4 separate regions of the Homo sapiens genome follow, and regions 1, 2 and 3 are each linked to region 4. The links come from fine-mapping of genetic effects on gene expression. A gene starts in region 4. Each other region holds a variant in brackets. All regions are shown on one strand. Distances are between the middles of the regions.

Region 1 (7,676 bases), 130 kb before region 4:
TATGTGCAGGCTGCTATGGTGGGTTATGGAGAAGAAAGCCAGTATTCTTAAAGTGCCCACAGTTTAGTGGTAATGGGAGAAATCTGCAAATAATTACCATTTTTGTGAAAGGCCTACATGCCATGCCAAGGCTTTTGAACTCGATTCTGTAGGCAGTATAGTACTGTGGAAGGTGTATATGAAATGGGATGAGTGCCAGACCAGAGAATAGTACAAAGTGCTGCAGGAGAATGGAGGAGGGAGAGGTTAATTCCGGCTGGAGGAGAGTCAGGAAGGTTTAATGGCAGAGATGGCATTTGAGCTGGGCCTTCAAGGATGGGTCTGATTTGTATTGGTAGGGAGATAAGGAGAGTAAGTGGGAAAGTGCAGGTTATCCCTGGATAAAGGGCATAATCAAGACCAGCTGGGAGAATGAGGAGTGTTATATGTTTAGTGAAAATGTGGAAAAGTCATTGGGACAAATTGTGGAGTCTTGAATGCAAAGCCAAGATGTAGCCTAAGTCGAGGAGGGATGTGATGAAGGTGTGAAGTCCTCCATTATGCTTCTTCCTGAAATTTCTCTGAAGTCTGTCTCCTAGCTTTTACTCCCCATTGCCTTTGCTCTGGGTCCAGTCCACATTACCTCTTGCCTGGACCATTCAAACAGCTCCTGCCTGATTGCTCCTCTTCCTCACCTTCTCCATTGTTCTACATCAACTTAACCTTCCTAAAGCACATCTCTCCATCAGTGTTTCTCTCTTTCTTTTCTTTCTTTCTTTCTTTTCTTTTTTCTTTTCTTTTCTTTCCTTCCTTCCTTCCTTCCTTCTTTCTTCTTTTCCTTCTTTTCTTTTCTTTCTTTGACAGAGTCTCGCTTTGTCGCCCAGGCTGGAGTGCAGTAGCGAGACCTCAGCTCACTACAACCTCCGCCTCCCAGATTCAAGCGATTCTCCTGCCTCAGCTGCCCAAATAGCTGGAACTACAGGCATGTGCCACCACGCCTGGCTAATTTTTTGTATTTTTAATAGAGACGGGATTTCACCGTGTTAGCCAGGATGGTCTCGATCTCCTGACCTCATGGTCTGCCTGCCTCACAATGTTTCTCTTTTGCCAACAAGGTAACATCTAAAGTCCATGGCTGGGTAGTTCAAGCCTTCTTTTCTCCCATGCAATGCAGCCTGCATTTTCAGCCTTCACTCCCTCTTTATGAACCTTATGTTTCCTTTAGTTCCTTCAGGGTGCTTCCCTCATCCTGTCCTCTGTGCACTTCTTGTGAGGTAGGAGAACATAGTAATAATAATTACATAGACTCCGCAGCCATACTCCCAAAATGGGGATGATAACAGCACCTATTGCATAGGAGTGTTGTACTTACTCAGCGAAGCATCATATGTAAAGTTTTAAGAACAGTGCTGGGCACTTAGTAAGTGCTCAAATGCTAGCATAAAAATTTGAGATTATGCTTATTTTCTAACTACCGTTATTTATACTCTTGCTCTCTCAAATACCCCTTTTCCCACTTGTTTCCTAAGAGAATCCTGCCCGGTTCAAAATGCCCCATCCCTAAGCTGGCATTACTTTTTCTCCTCCCTTATTTGGAAGTGATTTCTCTCCTATTTTCATGACTTCTCACTTTCTTTTTTGTAATATGGTTGTTTATGTGTTTATCTTACCTTCCCTGGCAGATTGCAAACAGGGTGAAGGCAGGATTGAAGTGTGGTTCATTTTGGTAGCTCCTGGAGTACTTGCACTCTGAAATTATTAGAATGACTGGCTGATCAGATGAGTACTTCAGAAAGATAATAGCAGTGAAAAGGAAAGATTAGGACTGGAGGGGCTGAAAGGCAGGGAGCCCACTTAAGAGGCTGCTGTGATCCAGGCTAGAGGTGGTGAGGGCTCAGCAAGTGACAGGAGGAATAAAATTGAGGCCATAAATCTTCAAGTGTCTGAGATCCACATGACTACACCTGTGCTCCAAAAGTTGGAAACAAAATACAGAGGAAAGGGATTTCTGTCAGATTATGAGTTCTCTTTTACTTAGTTGCAGTTTATTCTACCGCATGATTTCTTCTTCTGTGTAATAGTGTTAGATTGCTTTTCTTCTGTGGGTATTAACCGTATCTGTTATCTGTAGACAGTTGTGAAATGTTAATTAACTGGAAGCTCTTTTTCAAACAGAAAAATGAAAACCGATTTTATCTGAAGGAAGTGAACATCAGCATGTATTTGGTTAATGGCTCCGGTAAGCAAAGCACTGGCCTGGGGAAAAAGACTGTGGATTACCCTGAAGGATTAGAAATTACAATGGTCTTATTACCAAATAGTGCCTTATTTAATGAAACAGAAGATGCTATGTAAAAAGTGTACCTTGATCATACCTTAAAATCAGTAACTTAGAACTATGATGTTCTGTCTTTTTCTGTATCCCATTTTTTCAAAGTAGAGTAGATAATAATTAAGGATATGACTGATTTTTAGACTATAGAAACATCTATAGAAAGATAAGGGAACCTAGTTATGGTAAGAATTGCTTTTTGTGGGTTGATCTTGTCCCCCAGGCCTTCACTGAAAAACCCTGAGGACTGTTCCTTTTTTTTTTTTTTTTTTTTTTTGAGACAGGGTCTCGCTCTATGCCCAGGCCAGATTGCAGGGGTGTGACCACAGCTCAATCCCAGGTTCAAGCCAACTACCCACCTCAGCCTCCTAGGTAGCTGGGACTACAGGTGTGCACCATCATGCCCAGCTAATTTTTTTTTGTATTTTTTGTAGAGACAGGGTTTCACCATGTTGCCCAGGCTGGTCTTGATCTCCTGGGCTCACGTGATCTGCCCACCTTGGCTTCCCAAAGTGCTGGAATTACAGGCGTGAGCCACTGTGCCTGGCCAACTTTCCCATTTTTGATGTTGATAGGATAAGAAGTTACTAACCTGTTTCTTTTCTTTGAAGTTTTCAGCATTGCAAATAACAATCTCAGCTACTGGGATGCCCCCCTGGGAAGTTCTTATATGTGCAACAAAGAGCAGACTGTTTCAGTGTCTGGAGCATTTCAGATAAATACCTTTGATCTAAGGGTTCAGCCTTTCAATGTGACACAAGGAAAGTATTCTACAGGTAAGAATCAAGCAAACTTCATTAATAATTTATGTTCTTATGTTGACAGGTGGCTTTTCCTTTGAATCATAGACATTTAAACGTTGAAATAGAGGAATATGAATTCATAGCCTTGACCAAATTGTGCAACTCTATATTTGGCTCATCATTTTGCTCAACCGAGATGTTTTTGTGATCTTAAAATCATTTGCAAAAAAAGTTCTTAAAGCTAAAACTGATAGAAGCTTTAAGTGAGCTTTATTTGAGGTATGGGTTTTAGTTTGTAGGGAAGATGGCACTTGGGAGCAGCAGCTTTGAGCATCTTGCATCTGCTTCCTGAGGCCGTCTTCTCACTGGAAACATTTTCATACCTGAATGAAAGCAGTTTGGTCTGATTTTGTTAAGACAAAAGATAAAGAGCGGTAGCAAAGCCTCAAATATCATGAACTATGTTTTTACCAGCCAAAACGATCTGGAGAGTTTTCAAAGCATGTGCCAGTGTGAATGACGCTTTTTGAAGATCACTCAGGGATAATGGTGGTATTTATTAGATTTTTAATGAAACC[T/CT]TTTGAAGGGCTCATTATAATGTGTTCATACGAATATGAAAGACATATTTGGCATTACAAGATTAAAATTTGCATGAAGAAAAAAAGCACATAAAATTCCTTAATTGACTTGTCCTTTTAAGCCTATTACCTAAAATTGGGGGTTTGTGGATCACAACTCTGTTGAGCAGAGCTAGCTATTCCAGGCATCCACATCCTTTTCAACCATTAATTCTATGGTTTGGAAGGAAATGTGGAAGCTGTGTTTAAAAGCGAATATACTGTGAGCCATTCGACTACTTTTGCAGTGGTGTTGAATACCTAGTCTGACTTGGTTAGGCCACAATAAATTGGGCTCTCCACCCTACCATTCTTGCGATTAAAGACGTTAGTTACACTTTAAAAATATTTTCAAGAATTCATTTTCCCTTTTGTCTGTTTTGCTTATGTACTTCAATTATTTTGATCCTTTAGTAGCTTTATTTTTGGACTTTTTATCTGGCTCCCCTTCATTATTCCCCTAATTTTAAGTCCAGATTTGTGTTTACAGTTTAAAATCGTTTGCAGTATTAGTATCATCACTTCAAGACTGTTTATCTAGTCACCTGTAATAGAGATGAGCTGTGCTCTTTCTCTTACTTTGAAACTTTGGTTTTTATGTACATAGAATTAAAAATATCACCCAAAGAGATATACAGCATTTAATACTGATATTGAATGTATAATCTATTTGTGGAACTAGGTTCTTGGCTGTGGGTACCTATAAATACAACACATAGGTAATATTTGACTGTATGGGGAAAGAAATAGAATTGCAATAAGGCAGAAGAGTGTTGATTGGATTTTACTGGATCAGACCACTTTCTAGAAGTAGAAAAAAATAGCCCCCTTAGGCTGCCAACCCTGACCAGATAAGAAATGCAGTAAGCACGCTCAAATTAGTAAGAGGTCCCAGTTTTCTTGACTTTGCAGCCACTAAAATTGTATGTACTAAGTCACGATCTGCAAACTTTAAAGTTCCAAACAGTGAGTGTTTTAGGCTTTGGTGCCATATGGTCTCTGTCACAACTATTTGACCCTGCTATTGTAGCACGAAAACAGCAACACATAAACAGATGACTGTGGCTGGGTTCCAATAAAACCTTATTTATGGACACTGGAATTTGAATTTTATATGCTCTCATGTGTCACAAAATATTTTTTTCAACCATTTAAAAATGTAAAGGCCATTTTTAGCTCTTGGACCAGATCTGGCCCATGGGCTACAGCTTGCTGACCCCTGACCCTAAAGACAGAGCCAGCCTGGCTATTCTCATCACATGATACCTTCCTGATCCTGTTTCCACTTTCCCAAAAGACATTCACTCTACCACTGAGAGGCTAATCTGGCTATGTAAAAGTGGGCTAGATTAGCTCCCTTTATTTCTGATAAAGTAATATGCCTATTTTGGAAAGGACTTGGAATATAAACAAACATATATGTGTGTATGTATATGTATATGCACACATATATATCACATATAAAATATATATCATATATATAATGTGTGCATTATATATCATATATAATGTGCATATATTATATATATGCACACATATACAATGTGCATATAATATATGCACATTACAATATGAGCTGTGTTTATAGATGTAAATGAATATACATGTATTCATATATATGAATATCTGCATATATACACATAAACAAATGAAAGGACAAAGAAAGTCTTAGAATTTTAATTCTAGAACAGTTCTCCATTTTCTATAGCTTTATCATAAAAATATACCTGTCTTAGTTACTTGAAGTTGATCTTGTAAGAACATTTCTGACTTTTAAATCAACATCTTTGACTTCGAGACATTCTTTTGTGATTATACTCATTATTTATTACACACTTTTTCTCACCTACAGCCCAAGAGTGTTCGCTGGATGATGACACCATTCTAATCCCAATTATAGTTGGTGCTGGTCTTTCAGGCTTGATTATCGTTATAGTGATTGCTTACGTAATTGGCAGAAGAAAAAGTTATGCTGGATATCAGACTCTGTAACACTAATCAATACGTGATCTCTGTTACAAAAGAAAAAAGCAAGTACAAGTTCCAACATGCAATACTGGTCAACTTAAGGTATATTTAGTTGCAGTCCAGCTCTTTAGAATGGGTGGTATGGGGGATTTCAAACTTAAACAAAAAACTATCAACTACAAATTAGTTGCCTGACTTTGGTTTTTCCAACCAAGGAATTTAAAACTGTTATTTTTACAGCAAAAGATGTGCAAAATCACTGGATTATAAGTTCTATTTTACTGTCTTGAATTAGTATTTCAGTGTTTTCATTTTAGACATTCAGACTAAAAATACACCGTTTAGAAAAAACAATTTTTGAAAAAGAGATTTTTTTTCCCTGCAGGTAGTTGAGTTGGAACAACATGTTCTACCGTGGATTTGTACTTGCTCCTTTTGCTCTTTTTGTGTGTGTGTGTGTGTGTGTGTGTGTGTGTGTGTGTGTGATTTTTGTTTGCAGGTTAACTTAGCTACTTTGGCATTGCTGCATATTTGACCTTTGAGAGATATAATAGTAGATTTGAACAGGGGCTGGTATTATTATGTTCTTAGCAATAAATGCTTTTCTAATGCCTTTTGAATACATTTGTATTTATGTGGCTGTAATGACAAAAGATACAAAAGCTTTTTAAAATTTAGAGTAGGTATTAATCTTATTGTTTAATCTTTTTTTTAAAAAAACTGGATATTTCAATCTTTTAAATTGCAATATATAAGACTATTCCAACTGGGCATTTCAATCCATTTTTTAGGTGCTTTAGAGATAATTGCTTGCCAGTGCCAATTGAGGGCATTAGTACTTTGTGCTCATAAATTGGCCTCTGTATGCAGTACTAAAATTAATGCAGATTTCTCTTTAGCCTTCCAACATTTCTTGTTGATAGTGATGTATTTTATTATTTTCTTTTTCTTAAGAAATGCCAGTGTGTCCTAGAACCTAGATAACGAAGTGCACTTACACTTATAAAATAACTTGCATCTAGGCTGGGCGTGGCGGCTCACGCCTGTAATCCCAGCACTTTGGGAGGCCGAAGTGGGTGGATCACTTGAGGCCAGGAGTTTGAGACCAGCCTGGCCAACATGGTGAAACCCCATCTCTATCAGAAATACAAAAAATTAGCTGGGCGTGGTGGTGGGCGCCTGTAATCCCAGTTACTCGGGAGGCTGAGGCAGGAGAATCACTTGAACCCGGGAGGCAGAGGTTGCGGTGAGCCAAGAGCGCACCATTGCACTCCAGCCTGGGCGACAAAAACGAAACTCCATCTCAAAACAAAACAAAACAAAACAAACAAACAAACAAAACTTGCATCTAACCAAAAAGTCTTGGTTTTATCTTAATCCATTAAAAAGTTGTTCTTTGTTTCCAGCTTGCATTGATTGCTACAACATCACTAATTTGGCTTTCACATTTAAATGGTTCTGTGCTAATCAAAACTTTCGTTGTTATTATTCATTATGGTAGAATCATTTTTAATTCACGTGCTTTGTGTTCAGTTTTGTGGTCTGAGAGATGTACCAATTGTCAAATTACCGTGTACCACCTAATGTTTATAGGAGAAAGCAAAATACATCAGCTTGGTAGTTAACACATCAAATATTTCTTGCTGCTTCTAGGAGAACTTTTTTGGTGTGTGTTGGAATGGCTGAGCAAATATTAAAATTGTTAATATGCAGCCATATATGGAAGGTTCCTGTGGGGTTGTTTTTTCGTGTTTTTTTTTTTTTTGTGGTGGGATTATGTGCCTCCCATTCACTAGAAAATGAGAAAATTGTCTGGGTTCCAAAATATTGACATTGAATGGATCAATACACACACACAGACATATATATATATATGCACACATATATAGGCAGTTGCATGCTAGCATGGGTATTTTTATAACAATATAACTGAGTTATATTGGAATTATAAATATTTTCCGTCACTTAAATTTGTTCTTTGTTTAGCCTGAAAACCTTTATGGCTCAAGATCAGATTCCTGACTAACCCCTCTCTTA
Region 2 (7,676 bases), 34 kb after region 4:
TTGTTAAGTAGGAGACTGAAACACAGAGAACTTATCCGTTTCTCTAGGTCCACCCAGAACGTTGAGAGCAAGGGGGTAAAAGCCCACATTGGGTAATCAATCTCATGATCAATACAGTGATTAGTCTTTGCACTCAGTTACTCATTCACCGAGTATTTATTGACGACCTTTAATGTTTCTACCACTGTGCTAGGCAGTGAGAGAGACACAAAGGAATGTTAAGAGACGACCCTCGCCCTCAAGAGGTTGCGATTTTGACAGAAACATCATGTCGGCCTTGGCCTTGATTGTAACATTAGCACCAGCACAGTATTTAGCACTGATACGCTACCAACACATATTAGATTAAATAAATAACTGAATTATTGATATATACAAAGTGCCAAACTAAGAGGAATAGACTATGGGAGTCCAAGGAAAAAGCTAATGAATGGGTAGTGGCGTCTTTGAAGAAGGCACTATTGAAGCTTTGAGCAGTGAGAGAGATTAGGATAGGCAGAGAACAGAAAGCAATACCTTCAATGCAGGGGGAGAAATCTGAGCAAAGGTTTGGAATTAGTACCCAGCATAGCCAGTGTGGGGCTTCTGTGGACTCCAGCCTGGCTGGAGTGTATACTCCATTTTGAGGCTGGACTTTGGCAGACTGAGGAATTTGAACACTCCCCTGAAGGTACTGGGGAGCCACAGAAGGGTTTTGATTAAGTGAATGACATATTTTTAAAAGTGTTTTAGGAAGAGTAATCAGGCAGCAGTGGGGTCTGGCAGGACAGCCTTACAGTGATGGAGGCATGAGGATGGGAGCAGTGGGAATGCAAAAGGTGCAATTTCAGAGGAAGCTCTGCCCAGAGACTGAACCAAATGGAATCCTGAATCTCAAGCAGAAAAAAACCACATTAATTTGCTAAACCCGAACCATATCTAAGAATTAGCTTTCTTTTCCTTCATGGTTCAGTGAAAAAAAAAAATTAAATGGCTGCTGGAACCACTCAAACTGAAACCAAGTATATATTATCTAAAATTATTGAATATTTTAAAACAAACTACTATCCTATTCCCATATTGCGGTTTGTGCCTACAAAGTCTTAATACTGGCCAGGGACAGTGGCTCATGGCTGTAATCCCAGGACTTTGGGAGCCTGAAATGGGAGGATAGATTGAGCCTAGGAGTTCGAGGCCAGCCTGGGCAACATGTCAGAACCGCATCTCTACAAAATTTAGCTGGGCATGGCAGTGTGAGCCTGCAGTCCCAGTTACTTGGGAGGCTGAGGTTGGAGGATCACTTGAGTCAAGGAGGTTGAGGCTGCAGTGAGCCATGACCATACCACTGCACTCCAGCCTGGGTGACAGAGCAAGACCCCATCAAAAAAAAAAAAAAAAAAAAAAAAGAAAGAAAAGGAAAGAAAAGAAGGAAGGAAAAAAAAAGAAAAAGAAAAAACCCAACCAACCAAACAAACAAAAAACAAAATAAAGTGTTAATACCTTTAAGAACAGGGTTCAAAGGTTTGAATTGTGTTGCCAGAGGCTGGCTCTTAGAAGGAACAAAATGTAGCTACATATTTTAGTGGAGGCTTTTATTATATGTTGGAGTACTGCTTTCATGCCTGTTGGCATTACATCCCCCGGGCTCAGAGAAGTTAAGTAAAGTAAGTAACCTAAGAGTAAGAAAGTAAGTTGCTAGAGTCAGCATCTGGTGACAGAGCATAGATGACAGAGCCAGGATTCGAACACAGTCTGACTTCAGAGTCAGCTATGGCATACTGCCTGCCTATATATACTACTAGTCCACCCTTGGTGTTTTAGGAGGCAGGCAAACATAATTTGGGGGATGTCAGAAGTTGACTCCCAAGCTACAAAGGTGCTCCTGCAGTTCCACACTCACCCATACACACAGGTCTGTCCTTTTCAGAGAATAGTCCTTGTACAGCTGTCCGTTTTTGGGGGCAGTAAATAATCTGTGCATCCTCCCTGCCCTGTCCCCAGGGCCTAGTACAATGCCAGCTAATAGGAGACAATGTATGCTTATGCATGGGCTCTTGAGATATGCTCCTGAAAATACTGAAATCCAATTCAAACTCTGATTAATTGAAACTCCCTTAAAATTCCACTATGGGCCAAGTGTGGTGGCTCACACCTGGAATCCCAGCACTTTGGGAGGCTGATGTGGGAGTATCTCTTGATGCCAGGAGTTCAAGACCAGCCTGGCCAATATAGTAAGACTCTGTCTCTACAAAAAATATTTTTTTAAAAAATTCCACTACGGAAGCTTACTATTAAAAACAGTGGGTCTCAAACATTGATGAACTTGTTAACACAGATTCTTGACCCCATCACCAGAGATTCTACCAGATTCAGTAGGACTGGGGCTGGGCCTAGGAATCTGCATGTTTAACCATCTCTCTTTCTCAAAGATACATGCACAGATACACGCAGAGACACCCACAGGCACACACAAATAATGCACTGATACAAACAGGCAGGCACACATAGACACAAACACAGATGATTCTGATGCAGTCTGCCCTGTAACCACACTGACTTCACCTCCTTAGAGAAACACTGACTTTAAAGAATCTGAAGATAAATTCATCTGTAAAGTTTAAGTCTTTTCATATGTGAATAGTCCCTCTCTGATTCATTTTGGAGATCAGCCTTTGATTGTTTTTCTGTTTTCTTTTTTGCATTCTTATAGCAGGGGAGTCACATGTAATAATCATCCTAATGCCAGGGCGTTTCGTTGTGACTTTAAGTGTTTTAGATTCGTGATGAACTCCAGTGGCCAAGTTGTAAACTAGTTTGTGACATCCAGGAGGACAGGAACTTTCATTTAATTAATTCCACAGGTATTTATGTAGCACCAACTGTGTGTCAAGCACAGCAGTGAGCAAAATGAACCAGTTCCTGCCCTCATGGAGCTCACGTTCAAGTTGGGGAGGCAGACAATAACGTAGTAGACACATCAGTAAGTTATTTTCATATGGGAATGAATGCTACAGAGAAATTAGAAAAGGGTGATGTATTGCTTAGCTCGGGCTGCCATAACACGATACCATAGACCAGGTGGCTTAAACAATAGAAATGTACTTATTTCTCTCATTTCTGGAGGCTGGAAGTCTAAGATCAGGGTGCCAACATGGTCGAGCTCTGGTGAGGGCTCTCTACCTGGCTTGTGCCACTTCCCCTCTGTGCTCACAGTGACCTTTCCTTTCACATTCAAGTAGGGAGGGAGAGAACGAAAGTCGGGGTCGGGGGTGGGTGGGGGAGGGGCGTGGAGTAGGGAAGTCAGGGGAGAAGGAGGGAAAAAGAGGAGGAGGAGGAGGAGAGCGAGATCTTCCTTTTCTTATAAAGCCACCAATCCTATCCGATTAGGACCCCACCCTTGTGGCCTCATTTAACTTTAATTATCTTCTAAAAGCCCTATCTAAAAATACAGTCACATTGGGGGATAGGGCTTTAACACATGAATTTGGAGGGACAAAATTCATTCCATAGCGGATAATGTGATAGAGAGCGACAGGGCTGGGAAGGGGTGTCTTTGGACAGAGTGGTCAAGAAAGGCCTCCCCACGGAGGCGACTTTCAGGTTTTGTGTAGCAACTCAGCTTTAGTTGTTTACCAGGACATTGGTTTTTATTTGTTTGTTTTTTTGTTTGTTTTGTTTTGAGAGGGCACACACTGAAGTCTTTGAAGCCTGAATTCAGGTCCCAGTTCTACCACTTACGACTTGGGCAAGTTCTTTAACTTCTCTGTGCTTCACTTTCTTCATCTGTAAAATGTGCATGGTGATAGTCCCTATTTGATAGGATACTGTGAGGATTTGCAGAACTTTCTGCAATGATGGAAATGTTCTGTAACCTGCTCTGTCCAGTATAGTAAACACTAGCCACATGTGACTATTGAGCACTTGAAATGTGGCTGGTGAGACTTACCAACTGAATTTTTCTTTTTACTTAATTTTACTTAATTTAAATTTAAATAGCCACATGTGGCTAGTAGCTACCACATTAAACAGCACAGATGCAATGAATTCACACATGTGAAATGCTTAGCACTGTGCCTGGTACATAGCAAGTGTCAATAAGTGCTATCTAGGATTAGTGTTAGTGGTGGTTACAAGTATTTTTCTGGCAGGTAGGAGTTTTTTTTCGGGGAGTGGGGATAAACA[A/G]TCACACTTTGATTTATTATAGTACATGGCTATGATGTCTCTTACTGTAGCTCCCCACCTGCCCACCTGTCTTTTCACTGAGCTGTATGGTAGCCCAATCCCAGAGTTGGGGAGGGGGCTGGGGAGGACAGCCTGCTCCCTGGGGACTGACTGGAGCATGCTCCTCCCTGTCCAGCCGGGTGGAGATCACTGGTGGGTACTACGAATACATCGATGTCAGCAGTTGCCAAGATATCATCCACCTCTACCACCTGCTCTGGTCTGCCACCATCCTCAACATTGTTGGCCTGTTCCTGGGCATCATCACTGCCGCTGTCCTTGGAGGCTTTAAGGACATGGTAAGGAAAGAATTGACTTTGCATTTCACAGTGGCCCCTGTTGGACATAGGGGGAAGGCTAGGCAGTTGGGGGAAATGCAGACACATATTTTGAAGGGAAGAATCAGAAGCAATTGCTTCAAGGATGTAGCTGCCTTCAAATGTCTCAAGTTGAAGGAGCCAGGTAATGTCATCAGTCTGCAAATATTTCTTGTTATACACAAATTACCTGTGTTCTGGAGGCACCTTCTAGGGGTGGGGGGTGAAAGGAGGAAGGGGTGTTCTCAGTTCCCCCATTCGCACTGGTTATGTAAACATAGTCTTTTATAGCCCCACCCCACACTTTTAGTAAAATTTTTTGGGAATAGTTTTCCCCTAACAAACTTTGGGAGAGATGGAAGGAAAGGTTATTCTAGCTATAGGTAGGATTAATGCTAGTCTTCCCCTCCCCAGGTATTTCATAGTGAAGTTTCTTCAGAAAGAGCATCTGGGCTCTTTTCTGTTTGCATTCGCAGAGCCAGCTCTAGGCTAAGTTGCTTGCCAGGTCTTGCCTTCAACTTGGACCTCAACCTCAGCCTCCCCACTTTCCATTCTTCCCTTCCAAATCTTTTCTATTTGTGTGTGTGTGTCTGCAAAGGCACAGCAGGACTCAGCATTCAGTAGGTACTCCATATAGTAGGCTTCTTTTTTTCCTTTCCTTCTAAGGCATTTCTAAGCATTTATTTGTTTATTTGATAAATCTAGATCTCTAATTATGGAGATAATAGCTTTGAGTTATGGTTATCAACCTGGCTTCATATAAGAATCACCTGCCCAGCATGGTGGCTCATGCTTGTAATCTCAGCCCTTTGGGAGGCCAAGACAGGAGGATTGACTAAGCCCAGGGGTTTGAGACTAGGCTGAGCAACAGCCCCTGTCTCTATTAAGAAAAAACAACTTTTTTTAATTAGCTGGGTGTAGTGGCACATATCTGTAGTCCCAGCTACTTGGGAGGCTGAAGTGGGAGGATCACTTGAGCCCAGGAGGTTGAGGTTGCAGTAAGCCATGATTGCACCACTGCACTCCAGCCTGGGTGACAGAGTAAGACCCTGTCTCTAAAAAAAAAAAAAAAAAAAAAAAAATGCTTGGGCTCCTTCTCTAAAGATTCTGATTTAATTGGTCTAAACTGAAGCCCAGGCATCAGGTTTTGTTTTTTGGTTTTTTGGTTTTTTTTTTTTAAGCTCCCAGGTAATTCTGATCTGCAGCCATGATTGAATACCACTGCTTTAAATGAACATCCCACATCTGTTTATGGAATTATTTTGTGCCTAAGAGGGACTTTCCTTTGACCCCAGAAATTAGCTCCTAGGCCCTTGGCTGTTTCTGTCAGATTTTGGGGTCCCTGAAGAACAGAACCTGAAAGGCAGTTTGTAATTTGATCCTGGACGGTCAAAAGGATGAATGTTGGAAAGTGAAAGGTGGGGTAGGACAAGGGAAAAGAAAGAAACTCTGTCGTTTTGGATTGCAAGTCTCCAGCAGTACTGGGCTGACTGGAACTATTAAGTGTTCCTGCTAGTGACTCTAAGTCAAGAGAAATCCTTTCCTGCCCATCTGCACTCTCTCTTTCTTCTTTCTCTCCCTCTCTCATCCGCACATTTCTCTTCCCAGCTTCCCTCCCCAGACTCTGGAATGCCCAAGCACTAACAAGTAGGGGAAGCATCAACAAAGGTGGAGCCCCAGGAGGGAAAAGGATTTCCTGTAAATTTGGCCTTGAGGAAGCTTTTAGGTTAGAGAGCTGCAAAAAAAGCTGTTTCTGGGTTGGGGCTTCTTTGGAGAAAAGAATGCCCTTTGTTCTTGGAGAATTTCCCCAGGGGGCAGATGAAAGTACAGGTATTGTGTGGAATCTCAGCAGCTTTGGCTGGAAGAGAAGCTCCCAGGTTTGGCGAGTTGAGGAGATGGGACCTCAGGATGAGTGTTAAGAGTTCTCTAAATTGTCCCTAGAGCTTTCAGGCTTGGATGGCAGAGATACCTTGATGCACAAATGGAGTAGGTGGTAGCTACTTGGTAGGCTCTGTGGGGTGCCTGTAAGGCTTCCCCCTCTCCAATTTTACCCTACTGTGGGCGCTGAAACTGCCACCATGTTTTATTCCTTACTTTAAGATAAGCATTGTCCTTTTTCTCCTTGTCCACTTTCAAGATGCGTGTATTAAACAAAGGAATAGGCTAGTAGGCCACAGAGGTGTTTATACTTTGAGTTACTAGTCTCTCAGTGTGAAGGATTTGATAAGACCCTTTTCCATGGTGATGGAAAGAATTGGATTTTGAAGGCAAAGGGCATCTGAGGAAGACAGGGAGAGTGGCTAGATGGACACTTTCAAGAAATTTCTGGAAGTTGGAAAGAAGGGAGGAATAGGAAGATGATATGCTAAGGAACACAACCCTGCCAAGCTTTTAGCCTTAGCTTTAGTCCCGTTTTCCCTCACTGTCCCCCTTTAAAAAAAATTGAGGTGGAAGTCACAAACATAAAATTGATCACTTCAAAGTGTACAATTCAGTGGCATTTAGTACACTCACAATGTTGTGCAATCATCATTTCTGTCTAGTTCTAGAACTTTTTCATTACCTGAAACCTGTACCCATTAAACAATCACTCCTTGTTGCCCCTTCCCTGAGGCCCCAGCAACCCCTAATCTGCTGTCTGTCCCTATGGATTTACCTATTACAGGTATTTTCTATAAATGGAATCATGCAATATTCGAACTTCTGGGTCTGGCTCCTTTCACTTATCATATTTTTTTTGTTTTTAAAATTCATCTACCTTGTAGCATATATCAGTGCTTCATTTCTTTTTATGGCTGAATAATATTCCATTGTATGGATAGACCACGTTTTGTTTAGTTTTTTATCCATTGATATACATTTGGGTTGTTTTCATGTTTTAGCTACTGAGAATAGTGCCTTCATGAACAATCACTTACAAGTACTTGTTTGATTACCTGCTTCCAATTCTTTTTCCACCTATGGGTGGAATTGCTGGGTCATTTGGTAATTCTATGTTTAACTTTTTGAGGAGCTGCCAAACTGTTTTCCACAGCAGCTGTGTCATTTTACGTTCCTACCTGCAGTGTGTGAGGGTTCCAATTTCTCCACATCCTCACCAACACTTTCTCAAAAAAAATTATAAACATTCTAGTGGGCACAAAGTGGTATCTTGTTGTG
Region 3 (7,676 bases), 25 kb after region 4:
TTTTGTAGCATAGTTGCAGTCAATCATAGTATGCATACTATTTTGTATTCAACAGAAGCCATCTTAATAACAATAATTCCTTGTTTTGTGTAGTGCATTTAGCTTTTCAATGTGACTTCACATCTATTACCTCATTTGAAACCCACAGTAATCCTGTGATATATATAGGGCAGGCATTATTATCCCCATTTGACAAACAGTATTCACTCTGAGGCAGTCTCCATGGCAACATAGGCCTAGTGGCTAAGAAGCCTGCAGTAGATTTTGATGGCAGCATGAGCTAAAATGGCTTCCTTTTTTCCCCTCTTCCCCTCATTCCTAATGTTGTTTAATAGCTTTATTGAGATATAATTCACATCCCATACAATTCACCCATTTAATGTGTATAATTCAATGATTTTTAATATATTTAGTATGTATCAGTTATTTATGTGCAACCATCACCACAGTCAATTTTAGATTTTCATCATCTTGAAAAGAAATCCCATACCCTTTAGCTTTCACCTCCACATTCCCACATTCTCCCCAGACCCAAGCAACCACTAATATACTTTCTTTGTGTAAGGTATCCCTATTCTAGACATTTCATATTAATAGAATAATATAATATATATATTCTCTTGTGATTGGTTTCTTTCAGTTAGTATAATGTTTTCAAGATTCGTTCATGTTGTATCAAGTACTTCATTCCGTTTTATGGACTAATAACATTCCGTTGTATGGGTATACCACATTTTCTTTGTCCGTTCACTAGTTGGTGTACATTTGAGTTGTTTCCACTTTTTGGTTATTATGAATAATTCTACTGTAAACATTTATGTACAAATTTATGCATGGATATATGTTTTCATTTTCATTTTCATTTTCTTTCTACCTAAGAGTATAACTGCTGGATCATATAGTAAGTATGTTTATTTGTTTGAGGAACTGCCAGAGTATTTTCCAAAGTGGCTGCACTATTTTACATTCCCACCAGAGTGTTTGATGGGTTTGATTTTGCTACATACTCATCAACTCTCATTATTATCTGACTTTTTGATTCCAGCCATCCTAGTGGGTATGAAGCAGTATCTCATTATGGTTTTGATTTGCATTTTCCTGACATTCCAATGTTTTTGATCATTGGCTCCAGTCAAAGGCAATGGGCAAAAATTCAAATTATATTTACTGGAAGTTTCCTCTAATGACCACTACTTGCCTCTGAGTCCAGGCCCTCTGTACCTCCTGCTGCTGGTGACCTGCAGTACAGCATTTGACTCAAGTATTTGGGGGTACGACTGGATGAATATTTAAGAAAATCTTTCTGCTTATACTATACCTGCCCTAAGACATTGGCTAGTCCTCATTGACACCCAGAGAGCTTTGAGGAAGGAGGCTTTATTAATCTATGATGGTATCTGTTGGCCAACTTAAATGAAAGGCACATTTGGACCCTAGCACAGCTTGGATGGGTGAGAGCCAGCTGTCCTATTGTTGAGGCCCTTTAACATCATCTTTCCCTGTTCCTTTGACTTGGGTGAATCTGAACTTCCTCTCAAGACCTACCACCTTCTCACTCACCCTTCTCTATGTGTCTTGTGCCATTTCTCTTTTGTCTCATATTTCTTTCCTTTCCCCTCTCCCTAGTATAGCCATTAACTAGCTTGGAAAATCACTTTACCTTCTTGTACCATAGTTTTCTTTTCTTCTAAATGGATATAGTAGTAACCTACCTTTCAGGGTTAGCATGAACGTGAAATTAAATAATGGGAATGGATATGCCCTAAGAGGGCCTGGCATAGAGCAGACACTCAACATAAAACAATTTCCTTTTCTACCCCTTCATGCCATAGTTGGTAGCCCTTCAGATTACAGAGGTTGCCAAGCCCTGGCTGAGTGACCTTTTCTTGCCTCCCAATTGCCTTGTTCTTGTTACTCTTCTGGGCCTCAATGAAGAGTATCAGCCAGAGGCAGCAAATGGGCAACTATCACACGTCTGTCTTCATGTAGGGCACTTGGTGCCTGAATGCTTTTTGCAAAACCAGGAGGTGAGAAGGGCTGTGACCAGCACATTAAGCCTCCTCTTCAGCAGGATAATTATGATAATTATTCTGCCACTACCCAAACACCAAACATGGACAATAAGCCCTTCCAGGTGTGAGCATGAACACCCTCATTCCTTTCCAGCTAGACTCCAAGCTAAGCTAACAGGGCAAGGTACTTTCAGAACATTGAGCAGGCAGGAGTTTCATGTAGAAGTAGCTAGCTGATGGAAAGTCCTAGAACCTTAATGGGGAGGCCGGCTAAAAGGCAGGAGGCATTTGAGTGCCAAGTACAAAAGACGCTAAATCACATGTGTGGGGAAAAGCAGCCACTGAGATGATCGTAAATGGTGAAAGAAGTGGGGGCAGAAGGGAAGGAGACAATACATAAATTCCCTCTGCCTGGGTACTTCTGCCAAACCCCAAGGTCAATTTGCATAAGTTGTTTGTCCTGTCCTAAGGTGCCTTTGGAAGAAGCCCCCTACCACTCAGGGGAGGTTTAGCATCAGTCCGGAAAGTGAACAGCAGCTCCTGCCTGCAAGCTTCCAGGCAGCCCTGGCTTGTGTCTATTGGTTCTACCCCAACCCCCATGCATGAGAGCTCTCTCTCATCAGGAAGCTGGCCAAGCCAGCAGAGTAAATCGACTGTCCTTGAGCCCCATGTTAGTTTTCTGAGACTTGAACAGTGTTTTTGGAGTTCACTGATTTTATCTAATCTATGCAGTTGGGTGAAAATGGCTCACAGTTCAATTGAGTTAAAATCTACAGCAGCCTCAGGAGCTGCCCCTCCTCCTGAGGCTTGCTTCCTGAGCTCTTCCTTCTGAAAATGATGCGGAAATGACAGCAAGAGGTACAAGTCAGCCAACCATAGTCCTGTCCCCAGGTGATAATGAAACCTCATTGTTGGACTTGAGCTCTCTCTGCTTGAAAGTGTCATTTCATAATAACCTGGAGTTTTGCATCTTGTTCCCTGAGGACTGTTTACAAGAAGACAAAGGCCAGAAGTAAAAGAAAACCAGAGAGGAAATTTCAAGAAGCCCATTTCTCAATCAGTTTCATAATTTCTCATTAACCAAGTAGTCTAATAGAAAGTAATTTTTAAAGTATTTTTGTCTAATCTTCACTCAGTCTCCCTAGACAGGTGACTTTCAGAAATTAACCCAATCTACTGCCTGCCTGCTTCTGTGTGTGTGTGTGTGTGTGTGTGTGTGTATTCAAACCTTTTATTACCAAGTACAACACTTGCTGTTTTATTTTCCAAAGTCAAAACCCCTTTGTTTTGGTGTTTCCCTTTTCAGGATCTGAAACCACTCTACGCTAACCGGTGCCATTATGTTCCCAAGACATCACAGAAGGAAGCTGAGGAGGTGAGCCAGAATGAGGCTGCATGTCTTTACCTCCTGGGAAAGTCCCCTGTTCTGCCTGAAACACCCTTTCTTTTACTCCTTTTCATGGGCCTAAGTTTTATTTCTAGGTATGTATAGCTGATTTGTTCAGTGGGTCAGAGCACATTGCTAATGAGGCCATGGTCATAGGTTGGAGCCTCATGAGGCCTAATCAGTTTTACTTTGTTCTGTGGCCACAGGCTGACCCTCTGACCCCAGCCGGGAGCCTCCCCATATGTGGCTTTGATCCTCAGGGGGACAAATGAGAGTACAGAGGCCACAGGACATGACCCTCCCCCATCTCTGTGGATGATGGTTCAGTTGCCTGAACTCAGTGCTCAGTTGGAATAAAAGTGG[A/G]AGCCCCACCAGGGCACTAGGCCTGAACTACGGAGGCAGAGCCTGAGTTCCACACATAGGATGGGTCTGGAAGCCAAATGAGGGTAACTGAGAAGCCAGATCCACCTTTATGCTCTGGGGAGGCTGGGACTGTCAGCCTGGCCCCTCTCATAACACCTCCAAGAGGCCAGCCTAATAATGCTTGAGCATGCACAGATGAGTCTCTCTTCTGCCCCAAACAGCTCTCCTTATGTTCCATGTTGCCTCAAGCAGAGCTAGATGCAATGCGTAGTGAGGCAAAGTATGACTCCAGGTCATTTTTGGAGAGCTTTCATTTCAGTATACAATAATCCCTTCCCAACCCAGGGATTTCTCCATATGAAACTGTACCTAGGCTTCCAGGAATCTTGACAATTTTGTACTCTATTAACCTCACATTGAAAGTCAATCATTCCCAAATAGTTAGAAAAATGGTAAACTTTCAGTTGGGAAGAGAAAAGGAAGGCAATTGGATGTAAAATGGCCACTGCATTGCACAGCTTCAGGGGAAGCCATTTTACATAAAATACAATGTGAATGGGTGCCCTTGGAGTAAGGCAAAGCAGTCCTGCTCCAAAGGCACCATGGCAAATACTTTGATTATGTCTCTGCCATCCACTTGACTCCTTTTTCTTTTAACAACCATAAATTTACTATTTCTCTCACTGTTCTCAGGTTAGATAGGAGGAATAGAAATGCATATATGATAACAGCTTATCTGAAAGGCAGTAAGCATTTGGATGAAGGACCCAATATAGAAAAAAATGCCCATTTGCTATGAATATTCTCTATAACAAAGCAAGACAAATTTAGCAGCACTTCATTGCATCTGGATGGGGGAGAGAGCTGGACAATTTCTTGCTAACAAGAGATGGTAAATGAAATTCTTTTCCGTTTTTAAAACCTTTTTGCTAACTCAAAATGTGTAAAATGTCATTGCTGTTCTCTAGATTTTGTTGTGATAGCTTTCTTGCGTTAATTTGGTGACTGTAAAAATATTAATAATGACTTCCATAGGTTCACTTGTAACCCTGGTCCCCCTAACCCTATTTTTCCTACATAAGGTCATAAGTTCCTCAACCAAAAATTCTCCTTCCACGAGGGTTATGAGGAACCTTACCCAGGCAGCTAGAGAGGTACTATTGTACTTCAGAGTGCATGCGCCGGCTCCTCTGTCTTCCTTCCCACCTTATCTTCTTTCCTCCTGTACCCTGATTTTGCCTGCCCTCATATTCTCATTTCCTTCAGTCCATTTGTTCTTCCGTCTGTCCTTCCATCTGTCCTTCCTTCTCTCCATCTCCACCATTCAGGGATGGGGCACTGAGGGCTGTGGCAGAGGCTGGACATGAGCCCAGCTACACAGTGACTTGCCTCATGCACAAGTTCGGCCAGCTCCCCATCCAGCCCCATCCTTCCCACACATTGGGTGTTCATTTCAAAGCCATCCTTACTGTCTCCATCAGTCACTAACTCGCATTTCCAATCCCAGAGGGTCCTGCTTCCTATCCAATGCCAGCTCATCTCCTCACTGTTATATACCGTCAGGTTAACTGCCCTCACCTCAGCCGTGAATTCTGCACACCTCGCATCCGGGGCAACACCTGCTTCTGCTGTGACCTCTACAACTGTGGCAAGTAAGTGTTGAGGCCCAGACACAGGAATAATGGTCTGACCACAACGGACACTAGAAGGGCTGAGGTTAAGGAAGGGTGCATTGTGGGAATTAGGGAAGTGGAAGACATTGATCTGTTAACAGATTTTGGCTAACAGACATTACTTGCCTTCTCTGTGCCAGGCATCATGCTAGGTACTTTCACATACTTGATCTCATTTAATTCTTACTTATGATGTATGCAGAGTAATCCTCATTTTATAGATGAGGAGAGTGAAGTTCAAAGGAAACAGACAACTAGCCCAAGGTTACACAGAACTTGAAAATAATATGTATAGGATTCAAACTCAGCTCTGTCTATATCCAAGTTTAACAATGTTCAATAAATAGTTACTGAGTACCTTCTCGGTGCCTGGCTCTGTTCTAGACACTGAAGGTTCAGCAGCCAACAAAACAGAAGTCCTTTCCCCTGTGGAGCTTATATTCTAGTAGGGGAGACAGTCAACAAATACAGAAATATATAATATAATGCCAGGTGGTGATCAGAGCTCTGAAGAAAAATGAAGCAGGAGAGGTAGATAGTGATGAGGGGTGTGTGTGTGTGTGTGTGTGCGTGCACGTGCACATGCACGCACACTGTATGTTAGATAGAGTAGCCAGGGAAGGCCTCTTTGAGCAGGTGACATTTGTGCAGACCTGAAAGTAGTTGGGGGTGGGTGGGCAACCCAGGTAGATACCTGGAGAAAGAGTGCTTCAAGCAGAGGGAATAGCAAGTGCAAAGGTTCTGAGGCAGGAGCAGTTTTGGTGCTGGTTCTGCTACAGCCACTCTGGCTCTGTGCACTCCAAATTGCTAAAACATCCTTTATTCTTTCTTTCAAAATATATTTGGGCGCTAGGAATACAGAGATTGCCACTGAAGAGCTCGTAGACTAGTAAAGAGGATGGACATGTGAACAATCGATTGCAATATAATGTGATAAGTGCAGTGGGGATCAGTGGATGTGGTGGGGATTCTGGAGGCCCAATGAATGAAAGTCAGAGTTTGCCGGGAGGGAAAAGTGTCAAAGAGTAGGTGATATGGGAGCTGAGACTTACAGAATAAGTAGGGAATCAGGAGACAAACCAAAAGAAGACAGAGGTGGGAAGGATATTCCTGGTAGTTGTGAAGAGGTAGTGGGTGGAGGTAGTTACAGAAGGTGTGGTAGGAGGTAAGACAGAGGTGTAGCCAGAGATCAGATGATAGAGAGCTCATTGGCCATAGGAATGACTTCAGACTTGACCCTGTAGGCAACTGGGGGCCATTGAAGGGTACAGCATGGAAGATGGAATTGAGTGGTTGAGGAATGGAGGCAGCTAGGAGGCCATTGCAAGAGCGCAGGCCATAGAGAATGGAGCCTAGATCAAGTTGGAGACAATGCAAAGCGGGGAATCATTTTAAGAGCAATTTAGAAGGTAGAATCAATAGGGATGTGTGAGTAGGTGATGTGCACAGTGAGTGAACACCTCTCCATGCAGGGTATGTCGACCAATGTTCGTCATGCACGTATTTCCTTCAGAATCTTAGTGAAGGCGAACTGAGGGCCACGGGAGGGAGGGAGTAAGGGGAGGAACCTGCAGAGTGGGGCTGGATGGAGCTAGATTCAGAGGCAGCAAGTGGATGCAGCCCCCTCATCACTCACATTCCCTACTGTCGGTATTTTGGGGTCAGTTACTCTGGTTTAAGGATTAAGACTTGCCAGACTAGAGTCAGGGAGGAGAAGGCAGAGACCATACACCAGCTCTTTACCTTCTTTGCTTGTGCCAGTCTTGTTTCATTGAAAGGTTTGGCAGTGGAGGAAGAGAAATTTACAGATTCAAATGAGGTTTAGGGATTATCTGGGGAGTTCAATTATTTATGTTGTAATAATAACCATCACTTGTAAAGGACTTCCCTCCTTAGCAGCAATGATGGAGAGCTGGCTATAACTGTACTTCCTCAGCCCATCCTTACAAAAATGATCAAAGAAATGTAACACGGGTCCTAGGGGAATTGGGGTTATTTTACTATCTTTCCTCTTGCCTCCCCTCATCCTTCCTTCCCCGATCTGTCTTTCCCTTTGTTTTTATCTCCTCCCTCTTCTCTCCCTCCTCCTGCCATCCTTCTCCATTTTCCTTGGTGCTCTCCTCTCCTTTCCCATTTCATGGCCTCCTAGGGTGGTGCTGGGAGCTGGCCAGAACTGGGCCTGAGATCTCAAGGAGAGAGGAGGCCCACTGAGAGGGTTGATAAGTGATTCCTTGCAGACAC
Region 4 (7,676 bases):
CCCTGGTGCTATGGTTATTTTCCTGGTACCCAAAGAAAAAGACCAGCTGGCAATGAGAATCAGGCAACACCCTTAACTATGGTTTTCCTCAATCAAGATTCACATGTTTGTGGTGCAGGCACTGAGTACTAGGCATTGACCTAAGGTAGTCTGGTGGGCACACCCCAACCTCAGTTAGGAATGTTTGGACTCTTTGAGGCTCTCCATTATTCTGAAGCTTCTCTCTGTCCTTGATCAACCAAAGTCTGGAAAACGAGAGTTGGATGGTGATAACCAGAGCGTAGAGATACTAGCTGGGATGTCTATAAGTATGTGCACTTGTGAATACCTGTATGGCCACCATTTTAAATATGCATGTATGCATGTATGTGTGTGTAAACATGTAGACATTTCTCTAGCCCACATTCCCAGAATTGGAATCAGGAAGGTATACTATGTAATTTAAATAGTCAAATTGGTCAGCAAAATAAGGAGATAATTGAATGCTATGGCTCTTCCCAGGGAGAATGTGTTAGACACAGAGCACCATCTGGCATTTTTCTACTGGTCTGAAGGCTTCTGGGGAGGGCGCTCATCACTGGTTTGAAGAAGATGGAGAGAAGTAGGCTGCAGCCCCATTGGTAAACATTTCCTGATGCTATAAAGCAGTTTGCAACCTAGGGCAACACTGTATGCTTGATTAAGCTTGCTATGAAAAGGATTTATTTTAAGGCATTTTAATAATTTCTTTTTTTTATCAAAAGCTAACCAAGCAGTTTTATAGTAGCCTTCACTTGCATGAAAGACCTGTTTCTTCATCTAGATGGCTTGCCTATTGGTAAGTTTTATTATAAACCTATTTATGTATAAACTCCACATGTGTTTTGACATGAAGAAAATCAGAATGGAGCCCAGGAAACATTGCCTCTTGCTTTTTAATCATCCTGTTCAATTTGAGTTAAAATAAACTTTTTTTTGGAGGAAAAGAGGTGTATGTACTGGGCTTAGTTAAAATGTAGGGGGTTTTCCCCCCAGTTCCCATTCTAGTCCCTCCCCTTTTCCCGATCCTCTCTCCAGACAAATACACCATCTCTGGGGAGAAGACTGCTACTACTCTCCAAGCTGCTGCAGCTGCTGCTATTGTCACTGCTACTGGTCTCAAAGTCATTTTTAACTTGACTGAGTGCGTGCTGTGCTCCAAGTCCCACAAGGCACCCCAAGAGACAGCACAAAAGAAACATACCATATGCAGTTCTTTTAAATAGCCAGCTCCTCTAGTACTTTATAAAATAATGTTCAATTTCAAGCAGGATTCAGGAATACAGATGTTGAGAAAGCAAACCTCACTCCCATTAAAGGTACCTCACTAGTTTGTGTCTTTGGGATTATAAAGGTCAAATTACATATGCCCTCTGCATCATTTGGTGGGTAGTGTGTTTCTCTCTGAATTGAAAAGCCCTCAATCTGTCCATCAAAACCAGCATGGTAACAAGTTTCTATTTGGCTTCTTTAGGGATCTCTTGCTGTGTGATTGCTATAGGGGAGCCAAGAATCTCTAAAGAAGGTGTCATATAGTCTTTAGAGCCTGTATAAAAACCTCTTTTCTTTCAGGCTACTTTCACAGAAACGAAATATGTTAATTAGCAAGCACTCCTGAGAAATCAGTGCTGGTTGCAGGAGTCCTCCACATTAAGTATGAGATATTTAGAATGAGAGGAGAAAGAGATAAGTAAACAGGACTCAAAGACAATCATTGCAGAAGTATAAATACAGGATTTCTCTCTGCCTTTGTGGAGCTTATAGAGACCCTGACACAAGCTAAGCAGGCTTAAGACACACACATCTACAATAGTAGGCATCTTGTCTCTATCTAGGACATATATCACAGATTTCTAAACCACATGTATAGTGTAGGGTTGCTAATAATACCTGACACAGCATTCAACGTGGCCCCTGGGGTGCCCAAGTTCTTTACAAAGGGCTTCCTTTTTAATCTTCAAGAAACATATTTTCTTCCTTCAGAAGATGGGAAAGGGCAAGGGCCTTCAGTCCCATTTCCTGGATAAGAAAAACAAAGCTTTACAGTAGATTAGCAAGGCAGATCTGGAAAGAGCCAAGTACTCTTCTTCATCCCATTGACTCTTAGAATAGTTTTATACTTGATTTGGTTTGGGTTTTTCGGGGAACATGGAGAAAGGATTGCAGCAACCATCAGAAGGAGGTGGTTGGAAGGAGACCTGGCAAGCAGAGCCTGGGAGCTCCTCAATGGGACAGTATGGGCACCTCCAAATAGGTATATTCTCTTAGCTATGTTAGGCTTCCAGGGCTGTTCCCAGAGGGAGGTGGAGTCCACTGTTACCCGCTTCCTCACCCTCCACCTCCCCTGGCCACCAGATAGATGTCTTGGGGGCACTCCAAGGAGGCCTCATCCTGATCTGCAGTTGTTTTGAGAACATTCAAACCACCTTTTGGTCCAACCACAAGGTGCTTCAAGCCCAATATCCTAATGGGGTCCAAAAGGATAGGTTCGAGAAGGATTTGGCTGTCTTCCAAGATCAATGACATTCCCACCTCATCCCCAGTTTCCCTTAGTAATCCACAGTGGATCTGTCAGCCATGACTTTACTTTCACTCTTTCCAAAGCTACTTGCATTTTCATCTTGCTGCATCTTTTGGAGCTAATGAATTCCTTAGGTTTTCCATTTGCTATAGAGAATAATAGTTCTTTTCAGTCGCCATAGCAAGAACACTCACCTTGGAGTCCAACAGATCTAGGTTCTAGCTCTCACTTCTGCCACTTACTAGCTGAGTGGGCACAGGATATTTTCTTCCCTTCTCTGAGATTCAGTTTCCTCCTCTGCATAATGGGGTTATTGATAACTCCTCTTCCTCCCTTGCATGGCTGCTATGATGATAAAATGAGATCCTTGTTATAAAAGCACTTGAACAGTACAAACTGGGGTTCTGGTGCAGAGTTATACTTTAGCTGAATTTTCTAGCTAAAGATTGGGGGCTGTTGGTTCTAGAATTCTCAGGTCTGGTGAATAAGGCTGTGCTCCTTCTCTCCGTCTCTGCATAATTTTATACACTCTGGTCACATCACTTCCCAGCCTTCATCGTTCTAGACTAAAGAGTCTGCGTTTGTTTAATCTATCTTCATATGTCAGCCACCACCCTCCCCCCGCCCCACACACACCATCCCTTTGATTATAGAGTGGCCCTTCTCTGGATCATCTCCAGCTCCATTATGTCATTCTGGAAGCACTAAGACCAGACCTGCTCAAGTGTGTGTGTGTGTGTGTGTGTGTGTGTGTGTGTTCCTCAGCTCTGAACCTCTGACTCTGACCCCCTCCCCAGTTATAAATCCTAGAACAGGATAATTACCCAAGACCCTGTCCAACTATAGAGAAGGTTGGTTGGCTTCATACTGAAGCCTCCCCCTCTTTCTCTGCGCAGCCCTGGCCCCAAGGGGCTAAAACTGCTCCCTGTCTGGCTTGGAAGGCTGGGAGGTGGATAACTAGGATGGGGAGACTGAGGGGGAGGGAGGAGGGGGGGGGTCTTGCGCAAGCGCACGCGGCTGCACGGACCGCCAATGCTGCTGCCTCCCAGAGCAGAGGGAGGCAGAAGAGGAGGGAGGGAGAAGAGTGGAAGGGAGGGGGAGGCGGCACTTGGGCTGCAGCTCGCAACCAGAGGCAGTGTCTCTCAGCTCTCGGAAGGACCGAGAGAGGCAACCGCGGAGTAGGATGCTCTGCGGGGCGCCCAGAGCCGGGGGCGCTTGAAGCAGCTTCGGGGACTGGGGCAACCGGGCAGTTTTCACCATGCATCAGTCCCTGACTCAGCAGCGGTCCAGCGACATGTCCCTGCCCGATTCCATGGGTAAGTCTAGCGGCCCTTCCTTCGGGCGGCGGCAGCAGGGGTTGAGTGCCCTGGCCTCTGGACTGTGAACGCCCCAGCTGCCCCAAAAGCCGGAGAGCGGGAAACGGGGCATGGATGGGGTGGTCTTCGCGCCCCAGCGTCTGGGTGGTGGACCAGAGTCCCAGGGGAGCGGCCTGGCTGCAGCGGGAGCGACGTGCGGAGATCGGAGCGCCAAGCTTGCGTCGGAGTATCTCTGCCCCGGAGTGCGGGTGTGTGCCTGTTTGTGTGCGTGTGTCTACAGACTTGCAGTCGGTGGTAAATCCCAGCAATCTGAGGATCAAAACACTTCCCTGCAACCTGCGCCTTCGCTTTCCATTCGACACTCCCTCTTTGCAAAGTCCTGGTCACTTCTAAGAGCTCACGACTAACGACAATTAGAAGCAGGGTCCTCGCCCCCTCCCAACTCTCTTGAAGCTGCCCTGAAATTTAGAGATGCAGTTGGGTGGGGGCCTGACTTGCACCTCGCTGATTGGGGGGGGGGGGCGGGTTGCGCAACTCTGGGGGATGGGCGGGGGTGAGAAGAAAGGGGGGGATGAGGGGAGGGGAATTCCTGAGGAATCACTCAAGACAGCCCAGCCCTGCCCTCTGCAGCGGCGGGATCAACATTCTTTGAATTTGATTGTTACTCTGCTCCAAATGCACGGAATGTGCATGAGTGTGAAAAGGGAGTCAGGGGCAGGAGTGAGAGCGCGAGAAAGAAACATCCAGCGCGAGCCCGCGCATCTTCTGAAGTCGCGCTTTTCCTCGCAGGGCGGAATGGAGGGGGAGGGGCACCCTTCGACTCCTTTCCTTATAGAAACTGGGGGACAGCTACCTTCGGGCACCAACTTGGCTGCCCCTCGAAGCTGCTTTTTGGTAGTTACAAAAAAAAACAAACCCAGTCCCCCTCAGCTGTTAGGCACCTTCCCAAGCCCTGTGATTTCACTGGGCGGAGAAATTAATTTGGAGCCCTGGAGAGCGGGAGGGGATTGTAAAATCATGATCCCACCTAATCTTTTAAAATTCGCCTCGGATACACTTCAATCAAATCGAATTCTCTCTTTCCAACATACTTTACATTCTGCAAAATCCCTCTGTCCCGCAGTTCCTGCCATCAGTCTGCTCAGGTCTTCTCCGATGAATTTGCGGGAACATCTCGAGTGGAGGGGGCAGGGAGAAGATCGAACCCCCTATATAATCTCCCTACTGCCCGCAGAAGACTCAGTGTCAACAAAACTCGTTCACCGGAGGGGCCCCAGAAAGTGTTATCTCCTGGATGGTGGAAAGATCCGTATCCTCAATGGTTTTGCATATTCAGTATAAGAATTTGCTTTTTCATTTTTAAGGGCGTAGTTATTTACAACGGGGTACAAATGAGGCCAAGGACTTGGTCCGAATCCCGAGCCCAGCAGTACCAGACTCCCCCTTACTCCCAGCTCGCGCGCGCGCACTCTTTCTCCAACACACACACCACGCGCACACACATACAGAGGGAGAGGGAGAGAGAGAGAGCGCGAGAGCGAGAGAGAGCGACAGCGAGAGCGAGAGAGAGAGAGACAGAGAGGTGGGAATGCACTGCTTACCTTGGCCAGCTGTGGCGCCAACAACGCAGCCCTGGCTCCCCGACGCCAAGCTGTTGCGCTTCGCGAGGGAGGGCAGAGTGGAAGAGTGCTGGGGTTCCGCAGCGTCCATTCCCGCTGCGGACGACAACCACCTAACCACCTGCAAATCAAGCCACAGCGCCCCGGGCCCGTCTGCCTTCGGGGAGTGGGCTGGTTGGTGGCCCAGGGCTTAAAGAGTCGCTACTTGGCGCACTGCTCTGTGGGTTGGGGAACAAGATGAAGAGCTTTCTTTCTTGGGCTCCCAGGGGCCCTCAGCGATCTTGTGTTTCTCGAAAGGTCTGCGCAACAAACAGCTGAGTGGGCTTCGCCCAGCCCAGTCTCCACACTGCGGGAAAGGAATCATAAATCCCAGATAGAAGCGGAGCCGGCGCCACGCATTCCACTTTTTGAAGTCCGCAGACCGACGGCACTGGCAAATTCCTGAGTCCAGTGCTAACGCTGGGTTTCCACAGTTTGGACAGGGGAGTCTCCCCGGAGTTCCCTGGCCCTGGTCCCGCACAGTCCGGGCCTGAATCAGCGTCTAGGCTACTTAGGAGCTACTCCCACTTAGCTCTGGCAACACCACCTTCCCTTGCGTGGGGGGAAGAGGACAGTGGGTAGGTAGGTTAGTGTTTCAGCCTCCAAGGGCAGCATTTCTGAGGGGACTCCCTTTATTGTCAAGACACAACCGCAACCAAAACAATAAAATTTAAAACACGCAGACACACTGCACCAAGGTGCCTGCACTCTACGCTTGCTGGCTGCCTGGGAATAGAGCAGTGCGTCCAAGGCTCAGAGTGGAGCAGGCGCTTTGCAATTAAGAAGATGGTAATTTGACTCCAGTGTCCCCCCATCCCCTCCCAGCAACCCCCTTCTCCCTTTTGGCAACACCGCCCCCAGGCGCAAAGGCACCTCTACTACAGTAGGGCATTCCTTCCTCCCAAATAACACATTTGTAATTCGCGGGCGGCCTCGGATGTTCTCCATTCAGAGAACTGTCTAAAGTGGGGAGGGATGGATTTCAGCGCCTTTAAGGAAATGTTTGGGAGATTGGCAGGGTCTTGAGGCCCTTGTGTGGGCAGCCACTTGTTTCTAGGGATACTCAAGGCTGGGATATCCGGGGACCCACCCTGTGTGGCAAAGCTGACTCAGGTAAGCAAATCCTAATCGGTTCAAAAGATCAACCCAGAGAACTAGCCAGGCATCAACAACACCGTGTACAGGACAGGATACTGGGTTCCCAACTTTTCTGTGCCCAATAAAGATTATACACCTTATCTACTCTCTTGGGAGAGGATAATCAAGAACGTGTGCAAGGTAAAACAAAGTAACAGAGACAGCATCCTACCTTCTAGCAACTCACATCTTGGTTCCCTCAGATACACAATCCTGGGACTGGCAGATATCATATGGGTTGTGGACCAGACCCACGGTTACAATTGTAATGGTACCAGTTACAATTAATATACTTATTGAGTAAGGTACCTGGGAATTTAGGGACATGAATAAGTGATTAATTTTGATCAAGAAAAACTTTTTGGAGGAGGGGAATTTTGAGCATGTTTCAAAGGAAGGGAGGCACCCAGGTTCAAAGACCGCAATGCAGATGGGGGCTCTGACCAGGGGGAATACCCGGATGAGAGAAAAGCTGGTTGTTTTTGGAAGGGTGGAGATAGCAAATAATTGGGTGCTTCTAGAGCTAAGCATCCTGGTCATCAGGAATCTGGGGTGGAGGTGGGGCACTGCAGAGAGGGAGGGCTGCAGTAGTTCTGCAGGGAGGCTGCTGAGGAGGGGCAGGCAAGGCCAATGAAAAGATTTCAGACTCTCTCACTGCTGTTGGTTGCAGAGGTGGTTGTTGTTTAAGCAGAAATATACTGGGTGCCAAGGAGACAGAGTAGTGAGAGATATTGTAGTTTTCACACTAGTTAGCCAGAAGGCTTTTAATTTGAGGGAACCCTCAGGTGTACCCTACATTAAAAAATCAATTCTATGAGACTAGCCCATATTTATTCACACAATTCCTCCCACATCCTTCTTGATTAAAAGGGAAACAATTCTGAGATGTTGCCTCTTGTTTATTCAACAAGTACCGATTGTTTATTAGGTATCAAACACTAGGTATAAATCGTAATAGGCATGATTTTCATATACCTGCTGCTTTATTTAAGTACCTCCTGGTGCCTGAGTTTTTTTACGTGTCAC

Direction of the effects. Alleles are on the strand shown, and positions count from the first base shown. SD is a standard deviation of normalised expression in the study named. Not every link is listed here.
In carriers of allele CT in region 1, the expression in atrial appendage of the gene that starts at base 3,646 in region 4 tends to be higher than with T alone (small effect, 0.35 SD a copy in GTEx).

Evidence for each region. PIP is the estimated chance that this variant, and not a neighbour inherited with it, causes the effect. A credible set is the group of variants that fine-mapping cannot tell apart.
Region 1: its variant is the best candidate, but not a certain one, in a credible set for the expression of TMEM255A in atrial appendage (GTEx, PIP 0.88).
Region 2: its variant is the best candidate, but not a certain one, in a credible set for the expression of TMEM255A in blood mononuclear cells (TOPMed, PIP 0.87).
Region 3: its variant is the best candidate, but not a certain one, in a credible set for the expression of TMEM255A in monocytes (TOPMed, PIP 0.50).

What each region holds. Positions count from the first base shown.
Region 1 is chrX:120,437,141-120,444,816 of GRCh38, reverse strand. It overlaps LAMP2 (lysosomal associated membrane protein 2), which reads left to right. Exons shown (of 9, transcript NM_002294.3): 7 at 2,155-2,218; 8 at 2,923-3,087. Among named protein-coding and RNA genes, the nearest start is that of LAMP2, 28 kb to the left of the region's middle. The variant T/CT (reference allele first, on the strand shown) is at 3,633.
Region 2 is chrX:120,273,708-120,281,383 of GRCh38, reverse strand. It overlaps TMEM255A (transmembrane protein 255A), which reads left to right. Exons shown (of 9, transcript NM_001104544.3): 7 at 4,337-4,499. Among named protein-coding and RNA genes, the nearest start is that of ZBTB33, 27 kb to the right of the region's middle. RefSeq lists an enhancer at 5,927-6,604. The variant A/G (reference allele first, on the strand shown) is at 4,162.
Region 3 is chrX:120,282,865-120,290,540 of GRCh38, reverse strand. TMEM255A (transmembrane protein 255A) reads left to right here. Exons shown (of 9, transcript NM_001104544.3): 5 at 3,319-3,387; 6 at 5,326-5,414. Among named protein-coding and RNA genes, the nearest start is that of TMEM255A, 25 kb to the left of the region's middle. The variant A/G (reference allele first, on the strand shown) is at 3,763.
Region 4 is chrX:120,307,431-120,315,106 of GRCh38, reverse strand. TMEM255A (transmembrane protein 255A) reads left to right here and starts at 3,646. Exons shown (of 9, transcript NM_001104544.3): 1 at 3,646-3,855. The coding sequence starts at 3,798. RefSeq lists an enhancer at 5,630-5,679.